3 linked regions of the Homo sapiens genome follow. Changing the gene in region 2 together with the main gene of any one other region gives a genetic interaction. Each region holds a gene or a part of one and is shown on either strand. Other genes may lie near its edges.

What was found.
Region 1: changes in POMC (region 2) and ITGA6 together harm fitness more than expected from each alone (negative genetic interaction), as found in Homo sapiens cells (one large-scale study listed by BioGRID).
Region 3: changes in POMC (region 2) and TPSAB1 together harm fitness more than expected from each alone (negative genetic interaction), as found in Homo sapiens cells (one large-scale study listed by BioGRID).

The regions. Positions count from the first base shown.
Region 1 is NC_000002.12:172,500,557-172,503,896, reverse strand, and holds part of ITGA6 (integrin alpha-6 isoform b preproprotein), read right to left. Parts: intron 2,126-3,340; coding exon 2,018-2,125; 3' UTR 1,996-2,017; intron 590-1,995; exon of another isoform or gene 1-589. UniProt on the Homo sapiens protein: Integrin alpha-6/beta-1 (ITGA6:ITGB1) is a receptor for laminin on platelets. Integrin alpha-6/beta-1 (ITGA6:ITGB1) is present in oocytes and is involved in sperm-egg fusion.
Region 2 is NC_000002.12:25,160,355-25,163,118, forward strand, and holds the end of POMC (pro-opiomelanocortin preproprotein), read right to left. Parts: intron 1,399-2,764; coding exon 727-1,398; 3' UTR 506-726; downstream 1-505.
Region 3 is NC_000016.10:1,239,133-1,243,133, forward strand, and holds TPSAB1 (tryptase alpha/beta-1 precursor), read left to right. Parts: upstream 1-1,572; 5' UTR 1,573-1,596; intron 1,597-1,806; coding exon 1,807-1,867; intron 1,868-2,020; coding exon 2,021-2,192; intron 2,193-2,301; coding exon 2,302-2,567; intron 2,568-2,694; coding exon 2,695-2,858; intron 2,859-2,943; coding exon 2,944-3,108; 3' UTR 3,109-3,422; downstream 3,423-4,001. UniProt on the Homo sapiens protein: Tryptase is the major neutral protease present in mast cells and is secreted upon the coupled activation-degranulation response of this cell type. May play a role in innate immunity.

The sequences.
Region 1 (3,340 bases), about 150 Mb from region 2:
GCTGTAAAACTGGAAGAAAAGTCCATTTTCATCTTCTCTTTACATTTTATAACAAATGTAGGCTACCTCTTTACTAACAATTTAAGAGTTTATGAAAACAGTGCTTCCATATTTAAAAATAATCACAATATGATATGTAAAATATCTGATTATCAGATTAGATTAAGAATAATTTTTAAATGGCATAAACCAAAGATTATTTCATGCCCCTTTCCCACTAATAAAATGCAAATCATGTCACAAGTATTTTACAAATTACTATTTGAATATGCCAGTGTTCCAACAGGTCAACTTTATAATCTTTTTCTCTCCTCTGAGGCTCTAGTACACATATCACTTCTCTCATTAGCCAGGAGGTCATTTATGTTGCCTGGATTTGCTATTGTGCTTCTAATTAAGCTATTTCATTAATCACATAGTAACTGTTTCCTGCAATAAAAATCATGTGCTGCATAGGACTTCAGAAGTGCATCACTACACTGAATTTCAGAGCACTCCCTAATTTCTCTTCTTTTGCAAAAATACATTTACCTTTAAACTGTTAATGTGTGTGTTTATATATATATATAAAATTCATTTAAATAGTCAATCTGATCCAAAGTATATTTTTACTGAGAATATATCTGAAAAAATTTGAATTGAGATTAAATTTTTAAATGAAATATATTTACTTTTTTTAAAAAAAGGTGTTTTCAACTTTAAAATGCAGTTTAGAAGAATGAGGATATTGATAGAACTGTTAATGTGTTTATTGTGTGACGTCAATAGTAACAGGACATTTATGTTGAATGATGTTATGTTATAAAAATGCCATGGAGCAAGATAAAATTATATGTATAGTTATCACTAAATCAATAGGCAAAATGGACCAAGATGTTTTGTTCCAGGTCATTTCTACATGGATTCATTTATTATTCTGTGCAAAAAAAAAGAAAAAAAAGCCAAAGTACCTATCTATTACAAAATATGACTGCTGTCTACCCCATTTAAACAAAGAGGGAAATTAAGGGTAATATGTAAAGCTGAATGGCAATGTTGTGATTCACTGTGATAGTGCCATGGAAAGGATTACAGGAGTAATTCTGTCCTCTCATGCCCACGTAAATGGTGAAAGGGATCACTAGCAATTCCTATTTCCATGTATTTCCAAATAAGAGAAACTTGAATTTAAAATCAACTGAGATCCAAGGTTGGATAAAATCTCTGGATACATGAAATATGGTCAAACTCCATCACAACATATTGCAATAAAAACTGTTCAGGGTATTTTTTGTACTAGAATTTTGTAGATGGAAGGTAACTTTGGTAAGGGATCATCTTCTGAAGTTGGCCATAAAAGCCCATCATGCTGATAATCAGTTTGTTGTAATGGTCTTTGACCTGTAGGAGACATGCAGGAAATGGAAGTTGCATGCTTAGCTAGCATAAAACGATTCCTGAGCAACAGTAAAAAGCATTCCAAGCCTTCCCCATCACTTTATAGCAAAGAGAACAAAAAGATGACAGTGAGGAAGCCTCACCAAGAGAAACACAACATTTCCAACATGCAACAGGTTAATTAGGCGGTCGACACAGCTTCTATCTGTGGAAAATTCCAAAATGGACAAGAAATCTAGAATGATTTCTTATGCATCTTTGAATTCCCTAGTGGAATGCTACATACCGAATTAATAACACATTGCAAACTGGGCTACTATGGAGGGCTAAAAGTCTCTTTTTGTGTGTACAAATATTGCAAATTTTCTTCATTGCTGTGGTAGATATTTAACAAGAACATAAAATAACTCACCTGCAACGAAAGACTGTGCATTAAAAAAAACAAAAACTGAGCTTTCAAGTGAAATAAAATAAAACAAATCCAAGCAAGGCAAGCCAGTGTGGACATTTGGAAACATCTGTTAATGGGACACACATAGCAAGCTGTTGTTCTTAAAGTTAGCCACCACAACCATAGCGGGTCCCACAGCTAGCAATTAAAAAACATTGATCAATTACCAATTACAGAAGTAGATCAATACTATGCATCAGAAGTAAGCCTCTCTTTATCAGATGGCTGAGCATGGATCTCAGCCTTGTGATATGTGGCATCATAATGATCTTTCTTATTTCTCTTGAAGAAACCACACTACAAGGAAGCAAGGTATTTAGTCAATTTTACAGTTTTGTGTATAAGAGCCAAACAACAGAACATCTCAAATTTTAATCTGCCTTCTACTAGTGGCTTGTTTACAAACAGACCACTTTCAGTCAACCAACAATGAACAGCCACTGCATTGTTTCATTGTCATATTCAATACACCCTTCACCATACATCTCTGGTCAAATATTTATATGGATGACACTAGTCAGCTCATTGATTTTTCTCTTTGTAACAGAAATCTTGTGGACAAAAATCATTCTAATAGGGAAAACGTATATACATTGCTGATTGTAGCTTTGGGTAGTTTCTTCCTGCAGGAGAATATGAACTCCAAAAGAGGCAAAAGATTGACTTCGGCAGTTTATTGAGACAAAGGTTAGAAAATAAATTCTCTAAATAAAAGCACAAATCCAAATAAAATATAGATATACTATGGGTATTTTTCTGCCTTTTACAGTAAATTTTATGGAACAAATGCCATTTACTTGAGGCCTTTGGATCTGTGGGGTGAATCACAATACAAATTCGAATACACCATCATGAAAGAATGATTGCTGTCATTTTCCCAAACTCTGAGCACCATAAAACCCTTAAATGGTAGGGACCCAATGCTCCTCAGGTTAGGTCACTCTAAATGAGTATAAAAGTATAATTCCACTTTCTACTATAATTTCCTTCGTTCAGTGATAGAGAACTTTTCCTATTTACTTTTATCTAGTTCATAAGGCCATGGAACTGTCTTTTATAAAATTTAACCTGGTCAAATAAAATCTCCTGAAAAACTCTGATTCCTAGTCCAGCAACTCATGAAGGTAAAAGCCTAGATTCACTTTGTACAATATATGGGAGCTGCTGGCTCCGTGAGGCTATTCAGATTGAAATTAATTTAAATTACATTTAAAACTCTGTGCCTCAAGTGAACCAGCCATATTCCACGTGCCTAACCGCCACACATGACTAATGGCTACCATACTGGATGCTGCAGCTCCAGAACATTTCCATCAGTATAGAGTTTTGTTGGGCAGCTTTCAATAATATGTGCTAGTAAATAGGGTGGGAAGAAGAATAAACCAGGAGCCAAGAGGCCTGGTCCTGCCTCCAACTTGGCAACATTCTTTCCTTTTTTTGAGACAGAGTCTCACTCTGTTGCCCAGGCTGGAGTGCAGTGGCACGATCTTGGCTCACTGCAAGCTCCACCTC
Region 2 (2,764 bases):
TTATGTCCATTTTCTCCTTTAATCTTCACAATAACCCTCATACTGGGAAGGGAGGGGTAGATGAAAGAACTAAATTTTGGAGAAGTTCAGAGACTTGCCTAAGGTCCCATGGATTGCTACGAGCAGTTCCCCGGAGACATTACCAAGACTTCTCACCTGACAGTCCAGAGCACTCCCAGGCGTGGGTAGGCCTCAACCTGTCCAACTGGCTTTTGGAGGTGGACCGGAGCCGGGGAGCCCCTGAGCGCCCGGGGTCACTCTTGCAGGAATCCTGCCTTTACACGTGTGCTAGCTGAGCAGTCTCCCACTCAGTGGAGTGTGTGGAAAATACGGCCATCCTAGAGGTGCTGGAGCCACCCTGTGCCTTCACCCAAACTATCTGATCCCTCGAAGATCCATTTGGGGGTGGGGGCAGGAAGCACATTTTCCTTTCACGCTCACTAAGTCCTGTGAAATATCCTACCGCATGGAAACCACTGTGCTCCTCCGATCCATGCTGCTGTTATTTGACGGCTACGTATTTTTACTTTATTCACACAGTTTACATTCAAAGTCAGAGGTGGATGTGAAATTTGAAAGGTTTTATTTCCTAACTACAGGCAGCTTTAAGAGGCTGATTATCTGCCACGACCCCCCAGGCTGGGAGGCGGCAGCAGGGCAGGGGAGAGCAAGGGGCTTTGGGGTCGACCTCCTGGGGGAGGGTAGCCCTGGGGCCCCGCTGTGCCCTCACTCGCCCTTCTTGTAGGCGTTCTTGATGATGGCGTTTTTGAACAGCGTCACCAGGGGCGTCTGGCTCTTCTCGGAGGTCATGAAACCGCCGTAGCGCTTGTCCTTGGGCGGGCTGCCCCAGCGGAAGTGCTCCATCCTGTAGGGGCCCTCGTCCTTCTTCTCGGCCGCCACCAGCAGGCTGTGCTCCAGGTCGGCCTGGGCCCCTGCGCCGTCATCGGCAGGGCCGTCGGGGCCATCTCCCTCCCGGAGTCGCTGGCCAGTCAGCTCCCTCTTGAACTCCAGGGGGAAGGCCTCGGCCGACTCGTCCTCGGCGCCGTTAGGGTACACCTTCACTGGGCGCCGCTTCTTGCCCACCGGCTTGCCCCAGCGGAAGTGCTCCATGGAGTAGGAGCGCTTGCCCTCGCGCGGGCCCGGCTTGGCACCATCGCTGCGGGGCTCGGGGCCGCCCTCAGGCAGCGGGCCGCAGTCTTCGCCCGCTGAGACGTCCTCGCGCTTCTGCCCTGCGCCGCTGCTGCCGCTGCTGCTGCTGTTGCGGCGGCCGAATCGGTCCCAGCGGAAGTGGCCCATGACGTACTTCCGGGGGTTCTCGGTCAGAGGCTGCTCGTCGCCATTTCCCGGGAACATGGGAGTCTCGGCCGAGAGGTCGGGCTTGCAGGCCCGGATGCACTCCTGGGGGAAGACGCGAGGGCATGAGGGCAGCCCGTGCCCCGCACCCCGGCCCGGCTGCCGCGCCCGTCACTGCGCCTAGGCCCTGGCCGCCCTCGCCACGTGCCGAGGACACAGGGCACAGTGTCGGGCGTGTCAAGCGTCGAGGCCTCCCTACAGAGCAGGTCTGCCCACCTGCTTTCTTGGCACTCGTGGGCATCTAAGATCTTGCCACTGCCTCTTTTGTCCCATCCCCTTCATGCTTCTGCCTGGCAACTGCAACACACTTCCCATCCCATTCCATGGTTTGTCTAGCCATCTAGCCACCCCTAGCTTTTGTGAACAGGACCAAAGTCTTACTGTTATATGCCTGACATAAAGGAGTGGCTCCAAGAAAGGCAGACGGGTGGTAGTTGTTGGCACTTAATGAATATTGAGGGCCGGGCACGGTGGCTCACACCTATAATCCCAGCACTTTGGGAGGCCAAGGCAGGCAGATCACATGAGGTCAGGAGTTCAAGACCAGCCTGGCCAACTATGGTGAAATACCATCTCTAGTATAAATAAATAAATAAGCTGGGTGTGGTGGCGGGCGCCTGTAATCCCAGCTACTCTGGAGCCTGAGGCAGGAGAACCGCTTGAACCTGGGAGGTAGAGGTTGCAGTGAGCCAAGATCACACCACTGCACTCCACACTCCAGCCAGGGCAACAGAGCAAGACTCCGTCTCAAAAAAATAAATAAATAAATAAAAAGAATATTGAATAAATACATATGGTTTAATTCAAGTCCAGGAGGGGAGTGGGGCTGAAATTTGGGGGATAATCTCTCCAGGTGATAGAAGTCTGGCTACTAGGGCCCATATTTTTAAACATATTTTTAATAATGCCTCAACCTGTGTGAACCTGGGAGGTGGAGCTTGCAGTGAGGGGAGATCGCGCCACTGCACTCCAGCCTGGGTGATAGAGCGAGACTCCGTCTCAAAAAAATAAATAAATAAACAAAAAATAAAAAATAATGCCTCAACCTTACCTCAGTGATGAAAAACCTACTTTATGCCCTACCCCAGCTCCATCTCTGCACTAAGCCTCCAAAACTGCACCTTGGTTCTTTCACGACTTCTGAGCTGATTTCTGAGAGATCCCCCAGTGAGCTCTGGGGCAAGCTTATTTCCCTGTAATCTCATTCTGACTGGAGGGAGGGGTGGAAAGCTAGCGTTATTTCCATTGCACCGTCTGTGGAACCTGTGTCTCTGCTCCTTGTCCCTAGAGGACTCTATTGTGGTACATATTAGCTTAGGAAAATGGCTGCATAGGCTGCAGCCTTGAGTTTTCAGTGATAAAAAGATGAAAAGCTCACTGGCTGCTCTCTTTCTTGGGAATAGCAAAGGAG
Region 3 (4,001 bases), on a different chromosome or scaffold from region 2:
CAATCAAAGCTCTCGCATCCCCATGGTGCTGATTGGTCCGCCTCCCAGGCCTGACCCAATCGGAGCATTCCTAGGAGGAGCGGCCCCAGAGCCCCTGACTCGGGGGTCCCAGAGCCCTCTGCACACCACAGCCCCGGTGTCCCCGTGTGTCCCTGGGTTCTCCCAGCCCTGGTGTCCCCTGAGTCTCTTCTTCACCGTCAGCCCTGGTGTCTCCCGTGTCCCTGCCACACCCTCATCCCTGGTGTCCCCCGTCACCCCATCCCCTCACCTCCTGGGCTCCTGAAGGTCCCATCTTGTGGGCCTCATTCATGGAACCAGGACGGGGCAGGTGGAGGCCTCTGGGGAGTTTGTCCAGAGAATGGAGGAGAAGCAGGGTCATGAGCAGGAGCGGTCTGGGCCACCCCTGCCTGTCCCCCGGGGGGTGCAGCCCGGAAGGAGTCCAGATGGATATGGCCCCGCAGTGCAGAGTCAGCCCCAAACCAGGCTGGTCCCAGGCAGGGTGGGGGCAGGAGGAGCCCCGGAGTGGCCCTGTGTTGGGGGTCGGGGGGCAGGCAGGGGGTCCTGGGGCTCAGAAGCGGAGGAGGTGGGCTGGAGGCCCCAGTGACCAACAGGCCCAGGGGAGTCGGGAGGTGGGGTGGACGGACCTGCAGGGACAGTGTCAGCGCTGAATGGGATGGAGAGCACAGGGAGCTGGGGCCGGGGATGAGACCATGGGGAGCTGGGGCTGGGGCTGGGACTAGTCCATGGGGAGCTGGGGCTGAAGTTGGGGGTGAGTCCATGGGGAGCTGGGCTGGGCCTCCTGGGGTTGCACCTGCACTCCTCTCTGCTCTTCCCTCTGCGTATGAAGCTCAGATCCCATGATAAGGAGGCACCTGCAGACCAGGGGACCTGCACGGACAGCCCCAGAGGTGGACATTGAGGACTCGTAGGAGGACTTGGGTCTCATACGGCGGGTGGGGAGCAGGGCCCCTTCCTGGCTGAGGACACTTGGTGCTGTCCCCTCTCAAGGCTGTTTCCCCATCTGACAAAGGGGTCTCACGTGAGCCCCCAACCAAGTGAGTCGAGGAGGGCTGGCCCCACCCCCGTGGATTCGGAGTCCGTAGGAGGGGTGTCACCCGTCATGTCCCCACCCCGTGGGCACCTTCCCGTCTCTTGGAGCGTGGCCCATGGACATGAGTTCCTCACCCGTGTCCCTCTTGGGGAAACAGGTTTCAGGAGCGACGGGTCTTGTAGCCTGGGGCAGCCAGGCCACCTGGGTGCAGCAATGCCTGAAGGCCTCCTGGCACCGAGACAGGGGCAGGAGCAGATCCCACCAGCGGGAAGGTGGTGGGTTCCAGTGCTGGGATCCACCAGCTGACAGGTGGAGCTGCCAGTCTCCAGTGCTCAGCCCTCAGCGGGGCCTGCCTGGCAGCCCCACACACAGAGGGCATCGGGGTGGCGGGGGCACGTGTTACACGGGGGCCCTGGGTCTGAGTCATCCACTTCCTCCGAGTCTGGATGGGAGGACCCAGCGCCCCTCCTCCGCCCCCTCCTGATCTGGAAGGATAAATGGGGAGGGGAGAGCCCACTGGGTAGAAGGAACAGGGAGCGGCCAGGGTAAGTCCCCACTCTCAGAGACCCTGACATCAGCGTCACCTGGAGCAGAGTGGCCCAGCCTCAGACTCAGAGCACCAAGACCCAGGCCCGCAGGCCTGGACCCACCCCGGTCCCCCCGTCCCAGCTCCATTCTTCACCCCACAATCTGTAGCCCCCAGCCCTGCCCTGTGAGGCCCGGCCAGGCCCACGATGCTCCTCCTTGCTCCCCAGATGCTGAATCTGCTGCTGCTGGCGCTGCCCGTCCTGGCGAGCCGCGCCTACGCGGCCCCTGGTGAGTCCCAGCCGGGGTCCACCCTGCCCCTCACCACATTCCACAGGTCAGGGCCTGGGTGGGTTCTGGGGAGGTCGGGCTGGCCCCCACACAGGGAAGGGCTGGGCCCAGGCCTGGGGCTGCTTCCTGGTCCTGACCTGGCACCTGCCCCAGCCCCAGGCCAGGCCCTGCAGCGAGTGGGCATCGTCGGGGGTCAGGAGGCCCCCAGGAGCAAGTGGCCCTGGCAGGTGAGCCTGAGAGTCCACGGCCCATACTGGATGCACTTCTGCGGGGGCTCCCTCATCCACCCCCAGTGGGTGCTGACCGCAGCGCACTGCGTGGGACCGTGAGTCTCCCGGGGCCTGGAGGGGTGGGGAAGGGCTGGATGTGAGCCCTGGCTCCCGGGTGCTCCTGGGGGCTGCCCAGGGCCCTGAGTGGGATCCTCCGCTGCCCAGGGACGTCAAGGATCTGGCCGCCCTCAGGGTGCAACTGCGGGAGCAGCACCTCTACTACCAGGACCAGCTGCTGCCGGTCAGCAGGATCATCGTGCACCCACAGTTCTACACCGCCCAGATCGGAGCGGACATCGCCCTGCTGGAGCTGGAGGAGCCGGTGAACGTCTCCAGCCACGTCCACACGGTCACCCTGCCCCCTGCCTCAGAGACCTTCCCCCCGGGGATGCCGTGCTGGGTCACTGGCTGGGGCGATGTGGACAATGATGGTGGGTCTGGGGACAGTGGAGGTGGGGCCAGGGTCTTAGCCACAGCCCAGCCCCTGGGCTCCCTCTGGGCTCCAGGTGGGGGTTGCCCGGCCCCCTCCTGAGGCTGCACCCTCTTCCCCACCTGCAGAGCGCCTCCCACCGCCATTTCCTCTGAAGCAGGTGAAGGTCCCCATAATGGAAAACCACATTTGTGACGCAAAATACCACCTTGGCGCCTACACGGGAGACGACGTCCGCATCGTCCGTGACGACATGCTGTGTGCCGGGAACACCCGGAGGGACTCATGCCAGGTGGGCCCCGCCTGTCCCCCGCCCCCCGCCCCCCAACCCCCACTCCCAGGCCTGTTCGGCGAGCGCTGACCTCTGACCTTCCCAGGGCGACTCCGGAGGGCCCCTGGTGTGCAAGGTGAATGGCACCTGGCTGCAGGCGGGCGTGGTCAGCTGGGGCGAGGGCTGTGCCCAGCCCAACCGGCCTGGCATCTACACCCGTGTCACCTACTACTTGGACTGGATCCACCACTATGTCCCCAAAAAGCCGTGAGTCAGGCCTGGGTTGGCCACCTGGGTCACTGGAGGACCAACCCCTGCTGTCCAAAACACCACTGCTTCCTACCCAGGTGGCGACTGCCCCCCACACCTTCCCTGCCCCGTCCTGAGTGCCCCTTCCTGTCCTAAGCCCCCTGCTCTCTTCTGAGCCCCTTCCCCTGTCCTGAGGACCCTTCCCTATCCTGAGCCCCCTTCCCTGTCCTAAGCCTGACGCCTGCACCGGGCCCTCCAGCCCTCCCCTGCCCAGATAGCTGGTGGTGGGCGCTAATCCTCCTGAGTGCTGGACCTCATTAAAGTGCATGGAAATCACTGGTGTGCATCGCTGTGTTTCTGGTTGTGGATGTCACTGGGAGAGAAGGGGTCCAGGTGTGCTGAGGACACCTGCCACAGTGTGAGGTCCTAGCCCTCAAGGCACAGCCAGTCACCGTGGGACGGGGCCTCCTGGGCAGCCCTGGTCCCCGAGGCTGGCTTCTCCCCACACGATGCATCCAGCATTCGGGTCACACAGAGCCACTCGGGCAACTCAGTTGATTATAAAGGACAGCCAGGTCCCTGCAACCGGGTCAAGACAGAGAATGGTCGCCGGGAGCCCCAGGGCTGCCCATCATGAGCCCCTACCCCACGCTTCCCACGAGCTCTTCTCCCGGCCCCTCTGTCCACTGCTTGTGCTTTGCCTAGTTGTTTGCTTTGAGACGGGATCTCGCTGTGTCATCCAGGCTGAAGTGCAGTGGTGTGATCAGGGCTCACTGCAGCCTTAACTCCTGGGCTCAAGCGATCCTCCCATCTTGGCCTCCCATATAGCTGGGCCACAGGCGTGAGCCACCACGCCCAGTTAATTTTTGTATTTTCAGTAGAGATGGGGTTTCGCCATGTTGGCCAGTCTGGTCT